7 linked regions of the Homo sapiens genome follow. The protein of the gene in region 1 interacts with the protein of each later gene in a pairwise test. Each region holds a gene or a part of one and is shown in the gene's direction. Other genes may lie near its edges. The genes, in order: SNCA, SLC6A3, FOXR1, PRPF40A, MAGEC3, PACS1 and RNF111.

Evidence for each region.
Region 2: the proteins of SNCA (region 1) and SLC6A3 interact in binary tests that used the Homo sapiens proteins (3 or more experiments, as listed by UniProt).
Region 3: the proteins of SNCA (region 1) and FOXR1 interact in binary tests that used the Homo sapiens proteins (3 or more experiments, as listed by UniProt).
Region 4: the proteins of SNCA (region 1) and PRPF40A interact in binary tests that used the Homo sapiens proteins (3 or more experiments, as listed by UniProt).
Region 5: the proteins of SNCA (region 1) and MAGEC3 interact in binary tests that used the Homo sapiens proteins (3 or more experiments, as listed by UniProt).
Region 6: the proteins of SNCA (region 1) and PACS1 interact in binary tests that used the Homo sapiens proteins (3 or more experiments, as listed by UniProt).
Region 7: the proteins of SNCA (region 1) and RNF111 interact in binary tests that used the Homo sapiens proteins (3 or more experiments, as listed by UniProt).

What each region holds. Positions count from the first base shown.
Region 1 is NC_000004.12:89,827,162-89,830,661, reverse strand, and holds part of SNCA (alpha-synuclein), read left to right. Parts: intron 1-2,477; coding exon 2,478-2,519; intron 2,520-3,500. UniProt on the Homo sapiens protein: Neuronal protein that plays several roles in synaptic activity such as regulation of synaptic vesicle trafficking and subsequent neurotransmitter release.
Region 2 is NC_000005.10:1,435,441-1,438,940, reverse strand, and holds part of SLC6A3 (sodium-dependent dopamine transporter), read left to right. Parts: intron 1-3,500. UniProt on the Homo sapiens protein: Mediates sodium- and chloride-dependent transport of dopamine. Also mediates sodium- and chloride-dependent transport of norepinephrine (also known as noradrenaline). Regulator of light-dependent retinal hyaloid vessel regression, downstream of OPN5 signaling.
Region 3 is NC_000011.10:118,974,761-118,978,260, forward strand, and holds part of FOXR1 (forkhead box protein R1), read left to right. Parts: intron 1-3,500. UniProt on the Homo sapiens protein: Transcription factor which acts as both an activator and a repressor.
Region 4 is NC_000002.12:152,672,462-152,675,961, reverse strand, and holds part of PRPF40A (pre-mRNA-processing factor 40 homolog A), read left to right. Parts: intron 1-2,255; coding exon 2,256-2,364; intron 2,365-2,919; coding exon 2,920-2,984; intron 2,985-3,338; coding exon 3,339-3,500.
Region 5 is NC_000023.11:141,879,816-141,883,315, forward strand, and holds part of MAGEC3 (melanoma-associated antigen C3), read left to right. Parts: intron 1-1,587; coding exon 1,588-1,981; intron 1,982-3,500.
Region 6 is NC_000011.10:66,241,272-66,245,244, forward strand, and holds the end of PACS1 (phosphofurin acidic cluster sorting protein 1), read left to right. Parts: intron 1-155; coding exon 156-382; intron 383-1,640; coding exon 1,641-1,760; intron 1,761-1,893; coding exon 1,894-2,009; 3' UTR 2,010-3,473; downstream 3,474-3,973. Other genes in the region: uncharacterized protein LOC124902694, read right to left, coding at 3,778-3,841. UniProt on the Homo sapiens protein: Coat protein that is involved in the localization of trans-Golgi network (TGN) membrane proteins that contain acidic cluster sorting motifs.
Region 7 is NC_000015.10:59,088,663-59,092,162, forward strand, and holds part of RNF111 (E3 ubiquitin-protein ligase Arkadia), read left to right. Parts: intron 1-1,004; coding exon 1,005-1,097; intron 1,098-2,396; coding exon 2,397-2,492; intron 2,493-3,500. UniProt on the Homo sapiens protein: E3 ubiquitin-protein ligase. Required for mesoderm patterning during embryonic development. Acts as an enhancer of the transcriptional responses of the SMAD2/SMAD3 effectors, which are activated downstream of BMP.

The sequences.
Region 1 (3,500 bases):
CAGATATGCTGAAATCTTTTCTTGTGGATCTACACCCAGAAGAGGGATTGCTGGGTCATATGCTACTCTATTTTTAATTTTTCTTTTATTTTTAGTGAATATGTAATAATTGTATATAATTGTGGGATCCAGAATTATATTTCCATACATGTATACAATGTGTGATAATCAAATTAGGGTAATTAACATATCCATTACCTGAAACATTTATCATTCCTTTGTGGTGGGAACAGTAAAAATTAAAAATTCTCTCTTCTAGATTTTTGAACATATGCAATAAACTATTGTTAAGTATATCACCCTACAGTACTACAGAATGCTAGAACTCATTCCTCATATTTGGCTCCAATTTCATATTCTTTAACCAACCTCTCCATATCCTCCCCTCCCTCTTACCGTTGTCAGCCTCTAATAATCATAATTCTACTCTCTACTTCTATCTCATTGTCTTTGATTTAGAATATGTTTCATAATTTAACCAAAGGTCAAATTCTTAGGTACTGCTAAGGCAAAGAACAAAGATCGCATTCCAGCTGTTAGACATTTCTTACTACTAGTCATTTTTAAGACAACATGGGGTGCAGGTGGTGAGGATGAGAGATAGAGATTGAAACATATTCTCTTAAATATCAGCTGTTCTCACTCTGCATAGTTCCAGCACAAACAAATTCCAGGTACTATGGTTAGTTAAATAACACCAGCCACTAACAACACAATTCAAATTTCTGTTACCACAGTATACCGAAAGTCATTGCATAAAGTACAAACTTTGCTGCTAACTCTTCAGCCTTCAAATCATTACATAAATAACAGAAACCCATTATAATCAGTGACAAAACCACAGCACTTCTTTCAAAGCTTTTTGGAGATTGGTTGCTTCACATCTGTTATGCAGTTCATACAGACAGCAATGCCCGGACTTGTGTGGCCACATTGTCTCCCAGTGGTGAGCCCATGTGATGTTTCACGAAAATGCGCAATCAAAAGAGGAAACTGGCCAGCAAAGATGAAAGAGTAGCAAACAAAGGAAGTGAAACATTCTGGAAGTAAAATTTGAATCAAACATAAGTTGATGTATACAGGAAGTAGCTACCCTGAGGATGTTGTCACTGCTGCAATTCAGGAGACTCTAAATATGCAGTCAGAGGAACGTAGTGAGGTGAAGGTATCCGTATAATGGGGAAAGAGGTTGTGATAAAGAGTGAAGGTGTCCCAGAGGAAGTGTTGCTGAAAAATACACCTTATGTTAAATACACTGTCAGTATATCATGACATTAAAGTGCAAATGATAACATTTTGTAAACTGATCCAAACTTAAAAAGGAGTATGATAATTCTGTAAAACATAAAAATCATGCCGATTCCATAAATTATACAGTGTGAATTACACTGAAAAATCCAACATTAGAGAGGATATGAATACAATTTTTTACAAGCATAATTTTAATAATACACATAATAATTATTTGTATTCAAGTTTAGTAATGTTCAAGGTTTGGAAGAAATTCTGATCCTGTGTAGAGACCCTAGTTTGAATGTGCTTATAGCCTATTATTACATGTGTAATGTTACATAAATTACTTAACTCGGATTTTTAATTTCATCAGCTATTTAAAATGGGCATAATATAACTATATTAAATGGCTGTTATGAAGATTAAATAAGATGATATGTAAAATGTGTTTTTTGTTTGTTTGTTTGTTTGTCTGTTTGTTTTTTTGAGACAGAGTCTTGCTCTGTTACCCAGGCTGGAGTGCAGTGGCACAATCTTGGCTCACTGCAAGTTCTGCCTCCCGAGTTCATGCCATTCTCCTGCCTCAGCCCCTCCCAAGTAGCTGGGACTACAGGCACCCGCCACCACGCCTGGCTAATTTTTTGTATTTTTGGTAGAGATGGGGTTTCACCATATTAGCCAGGATGGTCTCGATCTCCTGACCTCGTGATCTGCCCACCTCGGCCTCCCAAATTGCTGGGATTACAGGCATGAGCCACTGCGCCCAGCCTAAAATGTTTTTTTTACATAATGGGTGTTCAGCACATGTTAAAGCCTTCTCTCCATCCTTCTTCCCTTTTGTTTCATGGGTTGACTGATCTGTCTCTAGTGCTGTACTTTTAAAGCTTCTACAGTTCTGAATTCAAAATTATCTTCTCACTGGGCCCCGGTGTTATCTCATTCTTTTTTCTCCTCTGTAAGTTGACATGTGATGTGGGAACAAAGGGGATAAAGTCATTATTTTGTGCTAAAATCGTAATTGGAGAGGACCTCCTGTTAGCTGGGCTTTCTTCTATTTATTGTGGTGGTTACTGGAGTTCCTTCTTCTAGTTTTAGGATATATATATATATTTTTTTCTTTCCCTGAAGATATAATAATATATATACTTCTGAAGATTGAGATTTTTAAATTAGTTGTATTGAAAACTAGCTAATCAGCAATTTAAGGCTAGCTTGAGACTTATGTCTTGAATTTGTTTTTGTAGGCTCCAAAACCAAGGAGGGAGTGGTGCATGGTGTGGCAACAGGTAAGCTCCATTGTGCTTATATCCAAAGATGATATTTAAAGTATCTAGTGATTAGTGTGGCCCAGTATTCAAGATTCCTATGAAATTGTAAAACAATCACTGAGCATTCTAAGAACATATCAGTCTTATTGAAACTGAATTCTTTATAAAGTATTTTTAAATAGGTAAATATTGATTATAAATAAAAAATATACTTGCCAAGAATAATGAGGGCTTTGAATTGATAAGCTATGTTTAATTTATAGTAAGTGGGCATTTAAATATTCTGACCAAAAATGTATTGACAAACTGCTGACAAAAATAAAATGTGAATATTGCCATAATTTTAAAAAAAGTAAAATTTCTGTTGATTACAGTAAAATATTTTGACCTTAAATTATGTTGATTACAATATTCCTTTGATAATTCAGAGTGCATTTCAGGAAACACCCTTGGACAGTCAGTAAAATGTTTATTGTATTTATCTTTGTATTGTTATGGTATAGCTATTTGTACAAATATTATTGTGCAATTATTACATTTCTGATTATATTATTCATTTGGCCTAAATTTACCGAGAATTTGAACAAGTCAATTAGGTTTACAATCAAGAAATATCAAAAATGATGAAAAGGATGATAATCATCATCAGATGTTGAGGAAGATGAGGATGAGAGTGCCAGAAATAGAGAAATCAAAGGAGAACCAAAATTTAACAAATTAAAAGCCCACAGACTTGCTGTAATTAAGTTTTCTGTTGTAAGTACTCCACGTTTCCTGGCAGATGTGGTGAAGCAAAAGATATAATCAGAAATATAATTTATATAATCGGAAAGCATTAAACACAATAGTGCCTATACAAATAAAATGTTCCTATCACTGACTTCTAAAATGGAAATGAGGACAATGATATGGGAATCTTAATACAGTGTTGTGGATATGACTAAAAACACAGGAGTCAGATCTTCTTGGTTCAACTTCCTGCTTACTCCTTACCAGCTG
Region 2 (3,500 bases), on another chromosome or scaffold:
TGGAGAGTATCTGAGGGCTCAGAGCCTTGGGATGCTGAGTCAGAGATGAAGCCGGCCCACTGGGGTAGGGGAAACTGAGGAAAGATGACATTGTGCTCTGGCACAGGCTGCAGCGACATCCAACTGTGCTTTGCTGGATTTTCAAGAGCCACCCTGGAGTCTGTCACAAGTGTCTTACAAGGCACAGCCCTGTGCCCCACTCCCGCCAGTGAGCCTGGTGTTGGAGCAAGTTAAATCACCTCTTCACGTGCAGGATTCAGGTGAGGAGGGCAGGAGAAAAAGGGACCTGTAGGTCCGCAGATAAGAGCTCATTTCCTTCCGTCTGTCACACAGAAAGGATGTTCACCAACAAAGCTGCCGTTGTGGGTCTTCATGGTGTAGTCCATAAAATGTCAAGAAGCAATTTCTAAGAATTTCAGAGCACCAACTCAACTTGGGCTAGTAGAGAACCTCTGACTTCCATCAGCGTGAGCAGTGGCACCTCGTTCTGAAGAAATGCAGCCGGCGGATGTGGGCATATCATCGTGTTCTCCACAATGCGCAGCCGGGGTAAGCTGGGCAGTCGTCTCCTCTGTGTCACAGACCCTGTGCCCACAATCCCGCATTCCATGCCGCCAGCTTCGTTCTGAAGACTAGTCCCAGAGGAGGGCTGCAAAGTGTGGCCGCAGGAAGGAAGGCTCGTGGCCCTGCGGGCGGATCTTTGGAAGAGCTTGTTCACACTCACCTAGTCCTGGTGAGGAAGGAAAATTGCAAATCACAGAAAGTGAACTGTTCGACCCACGAAGGGATAGATGAATCAGTGCAAGAAAGCTGGACTTCTTTTTAGAGACGAGACACCTTGAGTTGTTGAATCTCAGTAACGCTGCAGGTTCCGGTGCCAGCGTCCCGTTTGTTCTGCCTACCTGTCAAGCGCAGGATGCCAGTTTAGAGGAGACTGACATTGCTTATGAAATCAGATGTACACCATGCACCCCCGGCACCCTGATACATGTGCCTTTGTCCTTTTTAAAAATCTGGTTAATAAAAATGCATACGTTTTCATGTCTCATTGAATAGAAGTGCCACGTGGTAAATTAAGACATCAGCTAAAGTGCCCACAACAATCATTGTGGAGCTAAAAGGCCATCCAGCCCTGAGCAGGTGGCAATTCCATGGGGGAATGAAGCCAGCTCTCCAGGAAGCCTGGTTGTTCCTGGCCCTTCCCCTCCTGCAGACCTGCGAGCTGCTCCCTGCTCCTAACTGGGAGCCAAGATCCACCCTTGAAAGCCAGAGGGCGGAGTTCATGGTGAGGCCCAGCTGCTCAGCAGCCATGACTCACGTGCATTTCCCGTAGTCTCACCAGAGCAGCTTGGGATGGGCACCACAGCCAGAGGGGCCTCTGGGGCCTTCAGCCCCGCAGTGCACCCCAGGGTCCTGAGAGGTGGGTCTTTAAAACTCTCCGTCTCCTCCCTTCCCCTCGCTCTCTTTCCCTCTCCCTGTGTCTCTTTCTGTCTCTCTCCCTCCTTTCCTCTCTGTGTCTCTCCTGTTCTGTCTCTTCTCCTCTCTGTCTCTCTCCTGTTCTGTCTCTTCTCCTCTCTGTCTCTCGGGTACATGCACACACAGCAAGCACATACTAAAGACACCCAGACTGACACAGAGAGGCGTCCTCTCCCCTCTTTCTTTTCTTTTCTTTTCTTTTTTTTTTTTTTTGTGAGACGGAATCTCGCTCTGTCACCAGGCTGGAGTGCAAAGGCGCGATCTTGGCTCACTGTCACCTGCGCGTCCCGGGTTCAAGCGATTCTCCTGCCCCAGCCTCCCGAGTAGCTGGGGCTACAGGTGCGTGCCACCACGCCCCGCTAATTTTTTGTATTTTTAGTAGAGACGGGGTTTCATCGTGTTAGCCAGGATGGTCTCGATTGCCTGACCTCATGATCCGCCTGCCTTGGCCTCCCAAAGTGCTGGGATTACAGGAGTGAGCCACCGTGCCCGGCCCTCTCCCGTCTTTCTTCCAAAGACCTGCTTGATGCCTCCTGTGAGGTATGGAGGGGCTGCTCCACCAGAGGCTTCCTCCAGCGGGATCCGTGCATGCGTTGACAACACCCTCTCCTGAAGCCAGCTCTCGTGGGTGCCCTGGGGTGTACTGGTGTTCAGGGGTGGGGCAGGGTGGCCGTGCTCTGGTGGGCGAAGCACCATTTGCAGGCACGACCCTCAGCCAGCTTCTGTTTGTCAGGTTTCGGTTTCATTGCCAAGGGCAACCCCATTTTACAGACGCCCTGGAAACCCCACCATTCGATTGTATTGAATATAAAATATTTTATAGTCAGTCATATTTTAGTGTGATTTCTCAAACACAAAACAAACTACACACAAGGTTAATATAAAGAAAAAGATACTAAGCAAAAATAAATTTAAGGAAATGGGCCTTAAAAGCTATGCTTGAAATTCACACTTAGCGCCGAGCTTCCTGGGAGTCAGACAGGAGGGAAGGGAAGCGCCATGTTCTCATGAATGTTTTCCCTGGAAACGCGAGCAGGGACTTTGCCTGCCACCTCCTTGGGGAGACAGTCTCCCGTGTCACTAAATGGTGTTTAAGAAATGTGTCAGGTGAAGCTTCATCTGGAGCCCACAGTGATGTCATGAGCAGAGATCACTAGAAGGTTCTGTAGCCAACAGGGTAGTGGGTTTCCTGCGTCTGGGCCTTCGGTGAGCTTGAGGAGCTCGTGGTGAAGTTGGCTGGTTGGTGAGGGGCTACACGTCAGTGGCCCAGGTCACGGGCTCTGCCTTCCTGAAGGGCAGGGCTTGGAGCAACCGAATGCCTGGCCAGTGCTGACAGTGGCCACTACCGTTCAAGGGAGCCATTTCCTCACCCAGGTGCCCAGGGAAGCATCCAGGAGGGGACTGGCCACCACCGTTCAAGGGAGCCATTTCCTCACCCAGGTGCCCAGGGAAGCATCCAGGAGGGGACTGGCCACCACTGTTCAAGGGAGCCATTTCCTCACCGAGGTGCCCAGGGAAGCATCCAGGAGGGGACTGGCCACCACCGTTCAAGGCTGTTTCCTCACCCAGGTGCCCAGGGAAGCATCCAGGAGGGGACTGGCCACCACCGTTCAAGGGAGCCATTTCCTCACCCAGGTGCCCAGGGAAGCATCCAGGAGGGGACTGGCCACCACCGTTCAAGGGAGCCATTTCCTCACCCAGGTGCCCAGGGAAGCATCCAGGAGGGGACTGGCCACCACTGTTCAAGGGAGCCATTTCCTCACCCAGGTGCCCAGGGAAGCATCCTCAACCAGGAGGGGTCCTCTTGGTAAGGGGGACTCTGGTGTGGGGGCTGCACTGTCCCATGGATCAGAGCAGGCCCATTTGCTCTGGGAGCCGCATCAGCCAGTGTGGCCAGTGGTGATGTCATGCACAGTGGCCATGGTGATGTCATGCTCCCATGGTGGCCCTGCCAATCTGTGGTGCAGGGCAGGAAACAAAAGCAGTGGCTCTGGAAGGACCCAGGGTACACTCAGCCCTTCCTT
Region 3 (3,500 bases), on another chromosome or scaffold:
GGTAGTAGCAGGGAGAACCAGCTGGCTATGCTGATGGATTGGATATGGCGTATAAGACAGACAATTGAGTATGAGCCTTCAAAGTGTTTTGACCTAGTGGAAGGATAGAGTTGCCTTGTACTGAGTGGGAGACAGGTTTAGGAAGGAAGATCAGGAATTCTGTTCTGGATATGCTGAGCTGGAGATCCTTAGACATCCAAGTAGAAGCATTGAGTCTGCAGTTGGATACATGAGCCTGGAGTTCTGGAGAGAAGTGGGGACTGCAGATGTAAATTTTGGGTCTTTTGGTATATGGGTGGAACTTAAGGAGTAAGAATAGAGGAGGAACAAGAATGAGCCCTGGGGGCAGTCCATTGTAAAGAGATTGGAGAGAAGAGAGATAACTAGCAAAAAAGACTATTGAGAATCAAAACTAGGGCGTCTGTGGTATCCTGGAAACCAAGTGGAAAAAGCCTTTCAAGGAGGGAGGGGTTGGATGAGTGGAATGTAAGTGATGATTGGACTTAACAAAGCAGAGGTCCCTGGTTAGTGGTTTTAGTAAGTGGTAGAACAAAAAACCTGACTGAAGGGGGTTTAAGAGTAGAAGGAGGGGAAGTAGAGGCAATGTGTTATGCCTCAACAGGAAATAAGATGGGATAATCTTTTTCTTTTTCTTTCTTCTTTTTTTTTTTTTTAGAGACAGGGTCTCTATCTGGTGCCCAGGCTGGACTGCAGTGGCACCAGCACAGCTCACTGCAGTCTTGAGCAGCCTTGAGCAGCCTTGAGCAGCCTTGAACTCCTCGGCTCAAGTGATCCTCCTGCCTCAGCTTTCCAAAGCAGGCTGAGATTACAAGCATGAGCCACTGCACCTGGTCCCTAAAATGGGAGAATTAACAGCATGTTTGCATGCTGATGAGAATGACCCAACAAAGACAAAAAATTAGTGACACAGGAAAGAGAGGGGAAGATTTGTGGAACAACATCCTTGAAAAAGCATGGGGGATCTGTGCCAAAGAGAGACACAGACATACAAAGGTGCTATCCTTGGGTCGCAATGAGATCACCAGTCCATTGATCCTATCACCTTTTCACTGTTTCAATCACTTGATATGTCCACCCTTATTTAACTAACTTGAATCCCATGGTCAGATATTACGCAGGTTCCCTGGATCATCTGTGGCTTTGGAGCACTTTGTTGGCCAAACCACAACCCTGACTAAATCCACCTCTGCCAAACGAGTGCGCCAAAACCATAATTCAGTGGACTGGTGACCTCAGTGGGATCATAGTTGGGGTTGAGGGAGTTAGCCAGAAAGACACGAGGTGGTGCGTTTTTATGTGGTGCATAAATGAGGTTACGGAGAGGTTGCAGTTGTTGGTTTAGGTTATGCCTGAGGGAGTGTCCACAGTAGAGTAGAAGTCAAACTCGCTGGAGAAGAGTTCAATAAATAGCAAAGATCATGTTTTTGTTTTTGAAGCAAGGTCTGGCTTTGTTGCCCAAGCTGGAGTGCAATAGCGTAAGCTTGGCTCACTGCAACCTCCCTTTTCCCGCTCAAGCCATCCTCCCACTTCAGCCTCCTGAGTAGCTGGGACTACAGGCTCACGCCACCACACTCGGCTAGATTATTATCTTTGTATTTTTTATAGAGATGGGGTTTCACCATGTTGCCCAGGCTGATTTCAAACTCCTGGGCCCAAGCAATCCGCCTGCCTAAGCCTCTTAAAGTGCTGGGATTACAGGCATGAGCCGCTGCACCTGGCCAGCAGCCAAGATTTAAGGCAGGAGTAGTGTTGGAGAGTGACAGCTAAACCAGGAGGTCAGTAGATGGTAGTAACAATGGAGATTGATTAGTATATAAGTTCCTGTATTAACTTGAATATATACATCCAGGAGCAGACAGTAAGGTCGAGTAAATTGTGGTCCTGCCTGATTGCTCTTAACAAGGGCTGCTCCAGTTGATACACAGAACTGCAGTAAAATAAGAGATTCTGTCTCTTTGCATGTTTCTCAACACTTGGTATTATCTTTATAATTCCAGTCAATTTGATTATCTCATTATCTTACAGTGTTTTTCGTATTATTAATAATGCTGATCATCTCGTTAGCCATTCAGTTATCCCCTCCTTGTGAATGCTGATTCATATCATTTGTCCATTTCTAAGTTTGTGTTGACCTTTTACATATTGATTTGTAGGAGCTCTCTATGTATCAGAGAACTGAGAAATTTGGATTGAAGTTTTGCTATTTTGTTTGTTTGTCTATTTGTTTTTTGCTTATGGTGATTTTTACTATGTTAGAACTTTTTTTTGAGACAGAGTCTTGCTGTGTCACCTAGGCTGGAGTGTAGTGGCACGATCTCAGCTCACTGCAACTTCTGCCTCCCAGGTTCAAGTGATTCTCCTGCCTCAGCCTCCCAAGTAGCTGGGACTACAGGTACACACCACCAAGCCCGGCTAATTTTTTGTACTTTTAGTAGAGATGGGGTTTCACCTTGTTGGCCAGGCTGGTCTCAAACTCCTGACCTCAAGTGATCCACCTGCCTCGGCCTCCCAAAGTGCTGGGATTACAGGTGTGGGCCACCGCACCTGGCCAAACTTTAATTTTTGTGCTATAATATGTGCATAAAACTTACAGATTCATTTTGAGGGTAACTGGCATCTTAATAGTATGTATTATAAGTCTTTGTTCAAGTATTTTAAGTTCTTTATTTAAGAGCTGAGATGGGAAGATTGCTTGAGTTGGGAGGTGGAGATTGCAGTGAGCCGGTGTCACACCACTGCACTCCAGCATGGGCAACCAAGCAAGACCCTGTCTCCAAAAAAACCCCAATTTTTCTATCTTTTGCTACTTTTTCCTTTTTTGAATACTATGTTGAATATTAGCAACATAATAGGCATCCTCTCTAATTACTGAGCTCTCCGATAAGTATATCATTTCTCAAACAAAAGCCTAGATTCATCTGTAATATAATGACACTCATAGGGACAGTGAGGGGGCAAAAATAGTTTTTGTCCTGAACAACCATTAATGGTGGTGCCACTTGCTAAGACAAAGAATACAGGAAGGCCAGGCATGGTAGCTCACGCCCGTAATCCCAACACTTTGGGAGCCCGAAGCAGGAGGATTGCTTGAACCCAGGGGTTCGAGACCAGCCCAGGCAACATAGACCCTCATCTATACAAAAAATACAAAAATTGGGCTGGGCGCGGTGGCTCAAGCCTGTAATCCCAGCACTTTGGGAGGGTGAGGCAGGCAGATCATGAGTCAGGAGTTCGACACCAGCCTGGCCAATATGGTGAAACCACGTCTCTACTAAAAAATACAAAAATTAGCCGGGTGTGGTGGCGTGCGCTTGTAGTCCCAGCTTCTTGGGAGGCTGAGGCAGGAGAATCACTTGAACCTGGGAGGCAGAGGTTGCAGTGAGCCAAGATCGCGCCACTACACTCCAGCCTGGGCGACAGAGCGAGACTCCATCTGAAAAAAAAAAAATACAAAAATTAGTGGGGTGCAGTGGCATGTA
Region 4 (3,500 bases), on another chromosome or scaffold:
TGAATTATGGGGGAAAAAAAAGCAGTTTATGGCTGGGCATGGTGGCTCACACCTGTAATCCCAGCACTTTGGGAGGATGAGGCAGGAGGATCACTTGAGGCCAAGAGTTTAATATCAACGTGGGCAACATAACAAGACTCTGTCTCTACAAAAAATTTAAAAATTAGCCAGCACTTGTAACCTCAGCTACTGAGGAGGCTGAGGCAGGAGGATCACTTGAGCCTAGGATTTCAAGGCTGCAGTGAGCTATGATTGCACCGCTGCACTCCATCCTGGGTGAGACAGCAAGGCCACCCTGTCTCTCTTTTTTTTTTCTTTTTTTTTTTTTGGCACAGGGTCTCCCTCTGTCACCCAGGCTGGAGTGCAGTGACGTGATCAGGGCTCACTGCATCCTCGACCTCCTGGCCTCAAGCGATTCTCCCATCTCAGCCTCCTCCTGAGTAGCTGGGACTACAGGCACACACACCATGCCTAGCTCATTGGCCTGCCTCAGCGTGCCAAAATGCTGGGATTATAGGTGCGAGCCACTCCACCTGGCCAAGGAAAAAAGGCAATTTACAGAGAAAGAAAGTTGTCTAGGAAGTATATGAAAAGCCATTCAGCCATAATAATAAAGAAATACAAGTTAAAATAATACTGTGATTATTTTTCTAAGTGAAAGTCAAGTAGAGAAACATTTAAAAGATAACACCAGATACAAGAAAACTCTCTTTTCACTCTTAGTGAGACTATAGTAATACAACTTTTTAATAAAGCAAAGCTGTTATCTGTCAGAGTTCACGGTTTGTGTGTACTTGCATACCCTGTAGTCTAGTACATTTTATATGGCTATGCTTTATAGAGCTTTAGAAAGTGAGGTCAAGCTAAATTTCTTGACTTTAAGGGTGGCCTGAATAGTTCACCATAATCTCATTATTGAAACATGATTATCCATCTTAATATTTAAGCATGTTGCCTTCATCCATCCATCCCCTATTTTAAGTGTTCTTTTGTTTTTCGTATGTTAGTTTCCCAGAGTCAAAATAGATTTTTAACTTTTTCTGATGTTTCAAAAGTTTTAAAAGAAATCTGTATGGTGTATTTGAAGGCATGAAAATGAAATTAACATTTTGTTTTATACTTTCTCCCCCTTTTCTCTACATTTAAGATACACGAACATATATCTAATATATCAGAGACATCTTCCACATTGATAGAAATGTGTACCCATCATGTCAAATGATGGGTTATTATCATTTGATTGTGCATAAATGGAAGTGCTCCTCTATCAATAGATATTTAGGCTTTTTGGAATAACTTTATTTTGCGTCTTGTCATACTGAAAGTTTTCTTCAATGTTTTCCATAAGTTTAACATTAAACAGTTGTTTCCTGCTTTTTTTCATTCCAGCATTTCCTTGGTATAGTGTCTGAGTCATAATACGCTTTTGATTTTAATTACTATAACAGAGATCATTTTTTGTCAGTATCTACTACAGTGTCTCTTCGCCTAAGCGTTCTACTTATTTTTTTTTCATTCCCTGGCCCCCACCCATGCATTCCCTTATTATGTAGAAAGAAATGTAAGGCTTCTACCATTTTTTTCTCATCAGGAAAACCCCCAATTATTAAACAAGTTAGTAATTCTGGGTAGTTGTAATTTTTGTTTGACATCAGTGTTCAGCAAACTTTCATGAAATATTAGATTGGAAATATTTTTGGATTATTTGTGTCATACAGTCTTTATATGGTGACTCAATTCAGCTGTGGTAGCACAGTCAGCGATAATGTGTAAACAAATGAACGCGGGCATTTTCAAGTAAAACTATAATTACAAAAATTAATAGGCTGAATTTGTCTAGTGGGTTGTAGTTTGTCAATCCTGATTTAGATTGATCCTTACATCTTATTTATCTTCACACTTGCCCAAATCCTTAGAGTTATTATAGCACTAATGTGAAACCACTGAATGAGTTTAATAAGCCATTTAAAACTATTAACCTATGGGCCAGAGGAGCTAGTGTTTTAAGTCAGTTAAATGTTTATTTTGTCATTTGTCCAGGGTCTTAAAAACTGATTTAATAACTGAACTTTTAGGAAACGATTATCTTTATTTCTTTGTCTTCAGATAAGTGTGTTTTTAGAGTTCATATAGCTTTTATTCTAAATGTCAAATTTTATTTCAACATCAAACATTTAAACAATTTAGACATTATTTTTCTAAATGAAGCAAAAATTTATTTAATTGATAAATACCACATTTGAATTTCTCTCTAGTTTTACTCCCAAAAAAGAAGAGGAGGAGAGCCAACCAGCAAAGAAAACATACACTTGGAATACAAAGGAAGAGGCAAAGCAAGCTTTTAAAGAATTATTGAAAGAAAAGGTATTAATATTGCAGATTTTTATTGTTTCTTAGCTTTTTGACATCAAGCATGTATTATGGATTTTTATGTGATGTGTAATAATTACCCAACAAATGACGTTACTCTTTAATTAAACCTTGATGGTATTGATAATACCAATCTCATGAACTGTTGTAACTGAAAAGCAACTAAATATGTCTTTTTTTTTTTTTTTGAAGTACACTTTTGTGAAACTTTCAACACAAAAACTATTGTGTACAAGGTACTACACAAGCACATTTCTACCCAATATTTAATGTAAGGGTTTTTTTTTAATTCATAATAGTTATCTTTTATCCATAGTCTAAGAAAAAAGCATTTATGTTCTATTTAAATTTCAGTTAAAGTTTTCATTTTAGTTCATAGGTGTATTACACAGATTTGCCTTCAGTAAAAAACTATTTTTTATAACTTGTTTCAAACTCCTGCAAAGGGAAATGCTTGATGTTTGCAGTTAGTATTATACTCAGTTTCCTATTATGTGACTTAAACTATTCTTGTGTGAAATTTTAATTTTTCATTTAAATTATTTTCAGCGGGTACCATCGAATGCTTCATGGGAGCAGGCTATGAAAATGATTATTAATGATCCACGATACAGGTAGTACTTCAACTTTTTATTTACTTTTCACTTTGAGCATATAGCAGGCCTAGCACATTTAAAGTTGTGTAGAAAGATAAAACATTTAACTGTTGACTTCTGTTTAGGATACCAAGTATAGAGTTGTTTTATGTCTAATAACCAAAAAGTCAAAGGCTTATCAAACAATTTGAGTACTCCGCTACATATAAAATAATAATTATTTTAAAAGTAGAAATTACTTTCTACAATCATTTGTAATAAATTTTTGAAAATTTTTAAATTATATGTGTAAACAGTTTTATTTTTTTTTTCAAACCACTAATATTTGATTCTTTTGCCTGTGTTTACTCTTACATGGTATTTTTATATTAGTGCTTTGGCAAAGTTAAGTGAAAAAAAGCAAGCCTTTAATGCCTATAAAGTCCAGACAGAAAAAGAAGAAAAAGAAGAAGCAAGATCAAAGTACAAAGAGGCTAAGGAATCCTTTCAGCGTTTTCTTGAAAATCATGAGAAAATGACTTCTACAACCAGATA
Region 5 (3,500 bases), on another chromosome or scaffold:
CCTCTACCTGCTGTGAGATTGTAGGTCGCAGACAGGAAGAGGGTAACCGAGGGCTGAGGGACACGTCTTCATGACAGAAGAAGGGAGGAGGTGCCAGCTCTCTAGGGAATAAATAGGAAGACTTTGAGAAGGACAAGGGGAAACGCCACCTCAGAGGACAGACTCCCAGAGATTCCCAGCATGCTCCTCCATATCAGCCCTCGTAGAGCTCCCCAGTCAGCTCAGGCTGAGCGGCAGCCCTCTCATTGCTGGGTGAGAGGTGCAGGGAAAGGGAAGGCCTTGGTCTGAGGGTCCCGTGGCAAATCAGCACAGGGAGCTGCCTCCAGTTGGCAGAGGGAAGATTCCCAGGCCCTGCTGGGGATAAGAGTGAGGACTGAGGAGTCACATGTGCATCAGAACAGATGTGAGGCCAGCCCAACTGCCCCCGTGGTAGAGTGCTGGGAGGTGGCTGCCACCTCACTACCTCCCACTGCTCTCAGGGATGTGGAGTTTGCCCTGAGTTTTGGCTAGAAGAGTGGTAGGGACATGGCCCTGTCTGAGAAAAGGTGAGGATGCTAATTAAATTCTGATGGGACCATGCAGTCCAGAACTGTGGGGCTCTGGGAGTCTGGTCAGCCCCAGCTGTCAGCCTTGGGAGGCCCAAGACTCTGCTTGCAGTCTTTAGCCTGAGGGGCTCCCTCACTTCCTCTTGCAGGTGCTCCAGGAACCAGGAGTTGAAGACCTGGGTCTGAGGCACACTTCCTAAAGTCAGCACAGCAGAGGAGGCCCAGGCAATATCAGGAGTCAAGGTGAGTGCACGCCCTGACTGTGTACCAAGGGCCCTACCCCCACAAACAGAGCAGACCTGGCAGCACCTGGCCATAGCCACCTACTGCCATTCCTGGTGCCTCAGGCTCTGCCTGCCAGCTGTGCCCCGAGGTGCTTTCTCACATCCTCCTACAGGTTCCCAGGGGACAAACCCCCTAGGATGGCAGGTGACCCGTGAGGCCCTAGAGCACCACCTTAAGAGAAGAAGAGCTGTAAGCCGGCCTTTGTCAGAACCACCATGGGTGAGTTTCTCAGCTGAGGCCACTTGCAGTGTCCCTCTCTCCCTCAGGCCTGTTGGATGCCATCATCCACATCCCTGCTCACACATTTACCTCCTGCTCCTAAGGAAGACGTTATGCCTGTGTTTTGAAATGTTCCTAGCGGCAACTTTGAGAAAGACTTCCAGAACCAAACTGTGATAGAGAACTTGGCAGATGCACAGGATTCCACAGAGGAGGAAGAGGAGAAAACCTCCTCCATTTCCTCTTCCTCTTTCTACTTATTATTCCCCTCCTCTTCCTTCTCTTCTTCCTCCTTCTCCTCCTCTTTCTCCTCTTCCTCCTCCTCCTCCTCCTCATCCTCTACTCTGATTCTTGGTGCTCATGAGGAGGAGGAGGAGTAGCTGTCTGCTGGGATGCTGCCTCTTCCCCAGAATCCTCCTGAGAGTCCTCCCCAGGGTCCTCTCCAGGGTTCCCTGTCCTGCTCCTCCTCCACTTTATGAAGCCCATTCAATGAAGAGCCTAGCAGCCAATAAGATGAAGATACAAGTACCTGGCACAGCTTGCCAGAGAGCGAGCCCTTGTTCACTTATACACTGGATGAAAAGGTGGACAAGTTGGTGCAGTTTCTTCTCCTCAAATATCAAGCAAAAGAGCCTCTCACAAGAGCAGAGATGCAGATGAATGTCATCAACACATACACGGGCTACTTTCCTATGATCTTCAGGAAAGCCCGTGAGTTCATAGAGATTCTTTTTGGCATTTCCCTGACAGAAGTGGACCCCGACCATTTCTATGTCTTTGTAAACACATTAGACCTCACCTGTGAGGGGAGTCTGAGTGATGAGCAGGGCATGCCCCAGAACCGCCTCCTGATTCTTATTCTGAGTGTGATCTTCATAAAGGGCAACTGTGCATCTGAGGAGGTCATCTGGGAAGTGCTGAATGCAATAGGGGTGTGTGCTCAGAGGGAGCATTTCGTCTATCGGGAGCCCAGGGAGCTTGTCACTAAAGTTTGAGTGCAGGGACATTACCTGGAGTAGCGACATGTGCCCAGTAGTGCTCCTCCACGTTATGAATTCCTGTGGGGTCCTAGAGCCCATTCAGAAACTAGCAAGAGGAAAGTAGTGAGATTTTGGTCATGTGAAACAATACCGTCTCTAGTTCCTTTCCAATCTCTTCCAAGGATGCTTTGAAAGATGTGGAAGACAGAGCCCAGGCCATAATTGACACCAAAAATGATGCTACTGCCATGGCCAGTGCAAGGTTCCGTGTCATCTCCAGAAACTTCTCCTGTCCTGAGTGAAGTATAGGGCCGTTTCTTACGTCTGTGTTTGAAGAGGGCAGTCAGGGTCCTAGGTAGTGGAGGGCCCGGGTGGGGCTTGAGGGAACAATACAGTGTTCTTTGCATTTCTGTTCCATATGGGAGAGATAGATTTACCTCGTTTCCTTTTGTGTACTTTTTGAATGATTTTCCTTTTAATAGTAGGTTGAATTAGCTTCAGAATATTATTTTATAAATATTAGTCACACATATATTGCTGTTTATCTAGTTTAAGAGTAACAGTTTGATATTTTGTAAAAAAAAATGGAAAAAGCTTGTCTCTTATTTTGTGATCTATAACAGGATAACATGGTATTGTACTAGGAATTTTCTTTAAATTATGTAAGAACTCAGCAGTTAAATAGTGGAACGAAATAAAGGATGGTGAATAGTTACATTTCCTTATCCCGTTTATACTGTTGTTCTTGAAAATTAAAGAAATAGACCTGGCTTTGCTTAGCTCATTCAAGAAAGTAGCAGAAATTAAATGTTAATAAATAAAAGCATCTCTGACGGCTTTATTTGCCTAACATTCTGTGAGCATTTGCTTGCGGAGGGGACTCTTAATAGTGGGGATACAGTGAAAAGCAAGAGTTATGCCTTACCTATAAAACAATAGAGTCTAGGAGCAGAAGCCATGTCAAGAAGGTGGTAAGATGCTCTCTACAATCATAAGTTTCAAAAAAGTGGGGAGGTGAGACTCCAGATGGAGTCTTCAAGTATAAAGTCCCTGAGCTAAGGTAGTGTGGGGCTTCGGGAAACTGCAGGTGCTTCTGTGGGAGCTGATTGTTATGAAGCTGGGTGGTGGCAGGGGCCAGACTCTCAGAAGGTGAGAGAAAAGCCTGCAATGGAAAACTGCTCTGAGCAGTTCCTTCTGGGTGGATGATGAGGGAGAGAGGAGTCTCCATGTGGGGAAGTAATGGAAGCTGTCTTGCAGCTCTCTAACTGGTGAGCTTGAACACAGTGCAAGGACTAGGTGATTGATACCCATCATTTGCAAGTGTTTCCTGAGAAATAAGGCGATAATTCCTTGAAATGCTGCCCAGAAGCTTCTAGGCTGGCACTCATTTTCCTAGCCTGGGAGAGCCAGAGTCCATTCCATTGAAAGGTCATTTAATTAGGTTATTTTAAATGTAATGTGGGCAACTGTA
Region 6 (3,973 bases), on another chromosome or scaffold:
TCCTACATGAGCTGCTCTGTGTGGCTGGAGGGAACAGAGCTGCAGCCTTCCTCAGCCTGCCCTCCCGGGGACTGGCATGGCCCCTACCCCATCAGGCCTATGTAGTTGGGAGCTGAAGGCAGAGCTGACCTCTCCTCTTTGTTCCCTTTCCTCAGGAGCCCTAATAGCCCATATGGGGACGTGATTGGCCTCCAGGTGGACTACTGGCTGGGCCACCCCGGGGAGCGGAGGAGGGAAGGCGACAAGAGGGACGCCAGCTCGAAGAACACCCTCAAGAGTGTCTTCCGCTCAGTGCAGGTGTCCCGCCTGCCCCATAGTGGGGAGGCCCAGCTTTCTGGCACCATGGCCATGACTGTGGTCACCAAAGAAAAGAACAAGAAAGGTAAGTACCCCCAAGGCCGGGGAAGACCATGGGCCACCAGGCCTCCCGTCTCGTCTCTCAGGGCCTGGGAATAAATCTGCTTTTGGGATATTTGGGATGAAGAAGCATCCCATGGTCTGGCATGGGGTGCAGAGGGGGCAGTCCCACCTCCCCTCGAGGGACAAGGCCATTCCTTCTGTCATGCAGGAAACCGAGGCTGCAGAGAGTCGCTTGGTCACTCTCTGCTGAGCTCCAGTACTTTAGGGGCTGAGGCAGCTGCCACTGTGTAATGAAGGGGGCCTTTCTGGCCACTGCTGTCCGGGATGGACTGCAGACAGGGAGAGGCCTCTCTATATCACAGCTCCAGGTCCCTGTGACGCAGGAGTAGAGAACTTGCACCCAGCCCTGGAGGCCTCTCCAAAGAGGCCTCATGAGCAAAAGGACGTGGTTGTGTTTTCAGGATTAAGGGGCATACAGTCCATTCTGGATAGCAGGGGTAGCTTAAGGAGCTGGAGGGGAGTTGGAGCTGGCCCGGCTCCTGTGCGTGGGAGTGAGGCAGGAACCCCCATGGCTGGGCCAGTGCTGCGGCAGCGCCTGCCACCGTTGGTGCCAGCTGGGGACCCGCAACTGGTAGTGCACCTGCAGCACTGGCATGACCCCAACCCCGCCTCCTTTGGGTGCTGCAAAGCAGCTGTGCCTATTTCTGTGTGTGACTCCCCTCTGCAGAGTTCCCCTGGGGGGTCAGGCATGGGGCTGTGCCAGGCCCACAGCCAAAACCCACGGCCTGCAGCACAGAAACTTGCAAGGGGAAGCTGCCTGCTCAGCAGTGACCTCCCTGCCCTTGCTTCCTTTCTGGAGTGGGAGTGGAACAGGGAGCACTCCCCGGCATCCCCAGGACAGCGTGAGGACAAACTCATGCTGCACTGGCTCCTGCATAGAGCATGCGCCTGATAGGGAGGCAGGCCCCTGCCCCACAGGCTGCCTAGAACGTTCCAGCTGGAAAGGACTTCAGAGACCATCTGGACCAAGGTCTTCACTGAACAGGCGAAGATATCGAGCCCCAGGGGGAGAAGTGGGACCTTAGCCAAAGTCACCAGCCCAGTGCTGGGACTGAGTCAGGAACCTGAAGATCCTGACCCACAGCCCAGTGCCAGGGAGGAGGGGTTGGTTTGCAGATCACCTCCCCTCGCCACAGGAAGAAGGGGACAGTCGGCTGGGGAGGAGAGGGGTGGCGGCTTCCCCAGGGGCTGGGACACAGGTGGCCTTGCTTGCTTTCCAGTTCCCACCATCTTCCTGAGCAAGAAACCCCGAGAAAAGGAGGTGGATTCTAAGAGCCAGGTCATTGAAGGCATCAGCCGCCTCATCTGCTCAGCCAAGCAGCAGCAGACTATGCTGAGAGGTGCGAGGGCAGGCAGGGCCGGGAGGAGGGCAAGAAAGGGACTGGAGAGGGAGGCAGGCAATGGCCTTTCCCAAGGGGCCCTGGGGAGATGGCCTGAGCAGTCTGGTCACCCCTCCTCTCCTGTCACCCCTAGTGTCCATCGATGGGGTCGAGTGGAGTGACATCAAGTTCTTCCAGCTGGCAGCCCAGTGGCCCACCCATGTCAAGCACTTTCCAGTGGGACTCTTCAGTGGCAGCAAGGCCACCTGAGGCCCTGTCTCCCAGCCACTTTCCCTCCTGGCACTGCCACCAGCCTCACCGCCTGCGGGCAGGGGGAGGCCAGCAGGCCCGGGCCCAGCACCCCTTCCCTGGCACCAGGGTCTGCCTCTCACTCGCCCAGGTCCCGAAGGACACTGCCACAGGGACGCCTTCCCTCCCCTCCCCTCCAGCCCACCCCTGCACAGCCCCTCCTCCTTCCCGCTTTTCCCCTTCTCCCTCCTGCTCCAGGCCCAAGGCGTGTTGGTTTTGCCTTCTGGTGCCCATAGTCCCCTGGACTGAGTCCCCCAGGCCTTCCTTCACCCGACTTCCAAACTCTTCCTTGTGGTATCAGTTTCCTTCTCGGAAATGAGAAAGCTGGAATCCTGGTCCCCAGCAGGAGAGCCTAGTCCTCCCCCAGCCCCTCCAGCCACCAGGGTGTCCTCTAGGATGCAGCTGCCAGATCCACTCACTCTGCTGCCTCCAGCAGGACCCAAGGCCACTTTCAACTCTTATGGGGTTCTCCACCTGCCCCAGAGCTTCTCAAGGGAGGGTAAGGGGGCACCCTGAGCCCACAGGACCCCTACTTCACAGCTCACAGGGGCAGGAGGCAGCTCCCCTGCCTCCAGGACCCTGTTGCTATGGTGACACAGCGTTTCTAGGACAGAGGGGCCTCCCAGTCTCCCCCCACCACCCGTGCACGACTTCCTCACCACCCCCAGGTTCCCTGCAGATGTCGTGTGTGTCCTGAGTGTTTCTTTGGTTCTTTGCACGCCAAGTCTCTTGGTTGTACCATGTGACACACCCTGTGCACTGGTCGCTGTCTTCGTGGCTTCCACCCTTGTTAATGATGCTCCTGCCTCTGCCTCCCAGCCCCTCACCCAGCACAGCTCTGCCTGGACTTGGAGAGATGGGAGGCAGACCCCCACCACCATACATGCTGTCTGTGGCCCCTCAGACATTCTGTTTCATCTCCCATTCATCTCCCTCCTCCCACCGTGTCAGTTTTTCTGCCTTTCCCTGCTCTGTTCTTCCCCCTCCTTAGGCCCCAGCCTGGGCCCAGACCCATCCTCCCAGCCAGGTTTCCCTCCAGCAGGCTCCTTCCCTCCCTGTCACCTCCCTCTCACCAACCCGGGGTCTGAGCCCCTCATTCCTGACCGTCCGTGTTCTCAGGAGTGGTTGAGGACACAGGGCCCCAGCCCAGCCCTCTGCACCCCCCAGCCCGGCCATCTGCGCCCCACAGCCCCTTTGGAGCTTTTCTCTTGTCCTCTCACTCCTTCCCAGAAGTTTTTGCACAGAACTTCATTTTGAAAGTGTTTTTCTCATTCTCCATACCTCCCCCAAGCTCTCCTCCAGCCCTTCCCAGGGCTCAGCCCTGCTGTCCTGAGCGTCTCCTGGGCCAGAGAGAGGAGATGGGGGTGGGAGGGACTGAGTTGATGTTGGGTTTTTCATTCAATAAATTGGTGATTTCTTACCGACTGCCTTGGGCTTCTATGCCCCCTCACTGTGCCACAGGAGCTGCCCAACCCCTTTTCCACAGTGCAGCCCAACTCCAGTGAAAATCCACCAGGAACGTAGGTGGAAAGAAGCGTACTCCCATGTTCTCAATCATGGAAACAGGCATGAAGGTGTCTCACCTGGCATGAGGCAGGCAGAGGTCGGAAACAGGAAAGATGTCATTTCCACACCAAAAGCCCGTTTTTCCCCAGGACCCACCATCCCCAAATCCACCTCCCAAGGCAGTGACGTGTTGAGTGTGGCTTCCCCATCTTCTGATCAAAGGTCAGAACTTAGCTTCTCTCCCCTGCTCCAGGTTGGTGAAGTCCGAGCCAGTGGGGTCTTTGCCTCTGCAGGTGGAGGGAATAGGGCTGAGGGACATCTGTGGAGTTCCTTTTCCTGCCCGCCCTTGACTTAGAGATGGAAAGCAGTGGTAGCCACTGTCCCCTGGGTGCCCGGTTTTTCCACTAGCTTCCAAGACA
Region 7 (3,500 bases), on another chromosome or scaffold:
TATACAGTTGCTGCAAACACTGAATTAGCAAATATGGGACCCTTGCAAACCTCTGTTCACAACTAATCAGTGTATAACCTTTTTTATGTGTGTTTCTGCTTAAAGACAACTTTAAAAAATATTGTAGAATCATTAACATTGAACTCATAGCCAACAACACTGTAACTCATGCGTGAATGAAACTTATTCTCTCCATAAGGTGTATGACAGCCTTCTTTGCTTAGGAACACTAGACAGCACTTCAGCTCTATGCTTGGGTGCCATTTTAAACAACACAATCACCAACAAAAAGCACAAAACTGTGAAAAACGTGGCACTAAACAGTCTGCAAACAAGACACTGGTTTATAGTAGGAGCTCAAATACGGCAGAGCCCTGTTCTACCTCAGCTGGGAACAGAGTTGCATGTTGGGCAACTGCAATTTTTTGCCACCGGTCATATCCACGAATGACTCTGAAAGCACAAGTGTTGATTATGGGGTTACAAGTAAATTTTAGCCTGTGGGTCAGTTCACACATATGTAATCCATAAATAATGAAGATTGACTGTAACTAACAAAAAATTAGAAAACAGTGTTAAAAGTTTCCCTAATAGAATCAAGCAAAAAAGGCATAGGGTACTTTGGCTGTTAGGAAGCTTAACAGAAGTGAAGTAAAAAACTTATCTTGAAGTCGAATTTTGTTGGAAAATTGTGTGCATTTTTTGTTGTTGTTTTAATAAAGCTCTCTGAAATGGACAGGATCTTAAGACAATTTTACTCTTTTCAAGTTTGAGCTACTAAGAGCCTCAGGCTTAAGTTTGGGCATTTTGGAGAGTTAGGTTATATTTTAACAGAAACCTAAACCTGTTACAGAATGCTTAGTTGGAGTTATGTATTCTTATTGAAGTCAAATTTTATGAGCAGTTGAATTGAAAACATTGAGGGTCTTGAATTATTCAATGTTAACAGTAAATCACAAGTCTATTCTTAAAATTGATTTAGCCTATCTCTTCTGTTGAAATAGGTTCCTGATATGGCAGGCTATCCTCACATCCGTTACATTTCATCAGGATTGGATGGAACATCATTCAGAGGTCCTTTCAGGGGCAATTTTGAGGTATGTAATAAAATAAATGAATATGTTTGTCACAGTATCTTTAATGCAGATTGAGTATATATATACTACTATACACAATTGTGTAGGACTGCTACAGTGGCTGGGAATCACATGTGATTTTCTGATGTTGCTTCTGGGAGTTACAGAAATATTTGTAAGTATTATTAATCTTAGGGTCAAAAGTTACCGAAATATTTAAAGATGAGTAAATGAAAATATCTAATATAGAAGAATATAAAAATGTATTAAATCAATATAAATGTCAGATATATAACTATACCATTAAATGTGGTGGGGAACGGAATGTTTTTGACTCAGCTAAATTTTTAGAGAAATCGGTAGAGAAAAAGAAACTTAAGTAATTCCCTTTGTAGCTAAATGTCTTGTTTGAATTTTCAGGAAGAACAAATCATTCGAATGGGATTTAAAGTTTTGTTGTGGTTTGTTTTTTTGTTTGTTTGTTTGTTTGTTTGTTGTTGTTGTTTTTTTAGATGGAGTCTTGCTCTGTCACCCAGACTGGAGTGCAGTTGCACAATCTCAGCTCACTGCAACCTGCGCCTCCTGGGTTCAAGCAATTCTCCTGCCTCGGCTTCCTGAGTAGCTGGGATTACAGGTGCCCGCCACCACGCCCGGCTAATTTTTGTATTTTTAGTAGAGATAGTGTTTTGCCATGTTGGCCAGGCTGCTCTTGAACTCCTGACCTCAAGTGATCCACCCACCTTGGCCTCCCAAAGTACTGGGATTACAGGCGCAAGCCACCGCACCCGGCCCCCGTTGTGTTTTTTTTATGTCAGTTTGGAAGTTGGAGTCATTGTGACTTAGAACTATTGTTTGATTTGGTTCCTTAATTTACTAGAATTATTTCATCTTCTCCATACATACATACATACTGACTTACATAGTACCATGTGATAATATTGTTGTAATTTATAAAGATAACTTTTGCTGTACCATTTCAGTTGGCTGAGGAAAACATGATAAACAACCATTTGCCTTACTGTCTATGAGAAACATTAAGTCAGGCATGGTGGCTCACACCTGTAATCTCAGCAGTTTAGGAGGCCGAGGTGGGAGGATCACTTGAGGCCAGGAGTTTGAGACCAGCCTGGGCAACATATAAACTGTTTTATATATATACTTATATATAAGTAACCACTTGTCATGTGTAAGTTTTTTTGAACACTGTATTTATATTGCAAGTTTCTAAGTATGGAGGTTTATTTCTTATACAATGTTGACAGTTCTGTTCAAGGAATAATCATCTTGGCTTTTACCAGTCATTATATTCTTCACTTTCAGGAACTGATTCATTTGGAAGAAAGATTAGGCAATGTCAATCGTGGAGCATCCCAGGGGACAATTGAAAGATGTACATATCCACATAAATACAAAAAGGTAAGAATTTATTCTATGAAACTTCTGGAGTGTTACTGAAAGGCATAAATGTAATATATACCTTTTTTGAATTTGTAGACTCTAGCAATGACATTTTTATTGAAGTAATGCATACATATTGTTTAAAAATTTTGGAAAGTATAAAAAATATATACTTTGCAGTTTTTTACTCTGCAGACCCTAGTCCTTCTTCCCAGAAGTGAAATCATAGTTAAGGATTTAGATATTCTTCTAGATATTTTTTAGCATTTTCTAATAATGTGCATATGTATATATATTTTTGTCTACTTTAAAAAAAACACAAAAGGAGATGATTACCACATAGTTTGCAGATTGCCTTTCATGCCAATTAGCTCCCACAGATCACCCTTATTATTTTTAATAGCTTATGCAGAATTCCATCATATGGCAGTACTGTAATTTTTTTAACTAGCAATTTATTTTGACGGACATTTTATTGATGTATGTTTCTTCTACTCTACCCTCAGTTGCTTGTATAGCATTATACAGTTATGGGGTAGACATGTTAAATACGTGTCTTAAACCATGCTCAATACCAACGGTCCCCAACCTTTTTGACACCAGGGACCAGTTTTCATGGAAGACAATTTTTCATGGATAGGTGGCAGAGGGGATAGTTTCAGAATGAAACTATTCCACCTCAGATTATCAGGCATTAGTTAGATTCTCTTAAGGAGCATGCAACCTAGATCCCTCACATGCACAGTTTACAATAGGGTTCACGCTTCTATGAGAATCTATCGCTGCTGCTGATCTGACAGGAGGAAGAGCTCCAGCAGTGATGCTCGCTCACCTGCCACTCACCTCCTGCTGTGCAGCCAGGTACTGGTTTGCAGCCCAGGGGTTGGAGACTCCTTTATACTATGTAAAGAATAATCATAAAGTGTGAAAATTACTATTCTCTGTATTTTTCATCTATTTTCAAAGAGTATTGAGGTATTACCAGTACATTCAAGTTTTCAACTGTCCAAGTTAAATACTGTAACT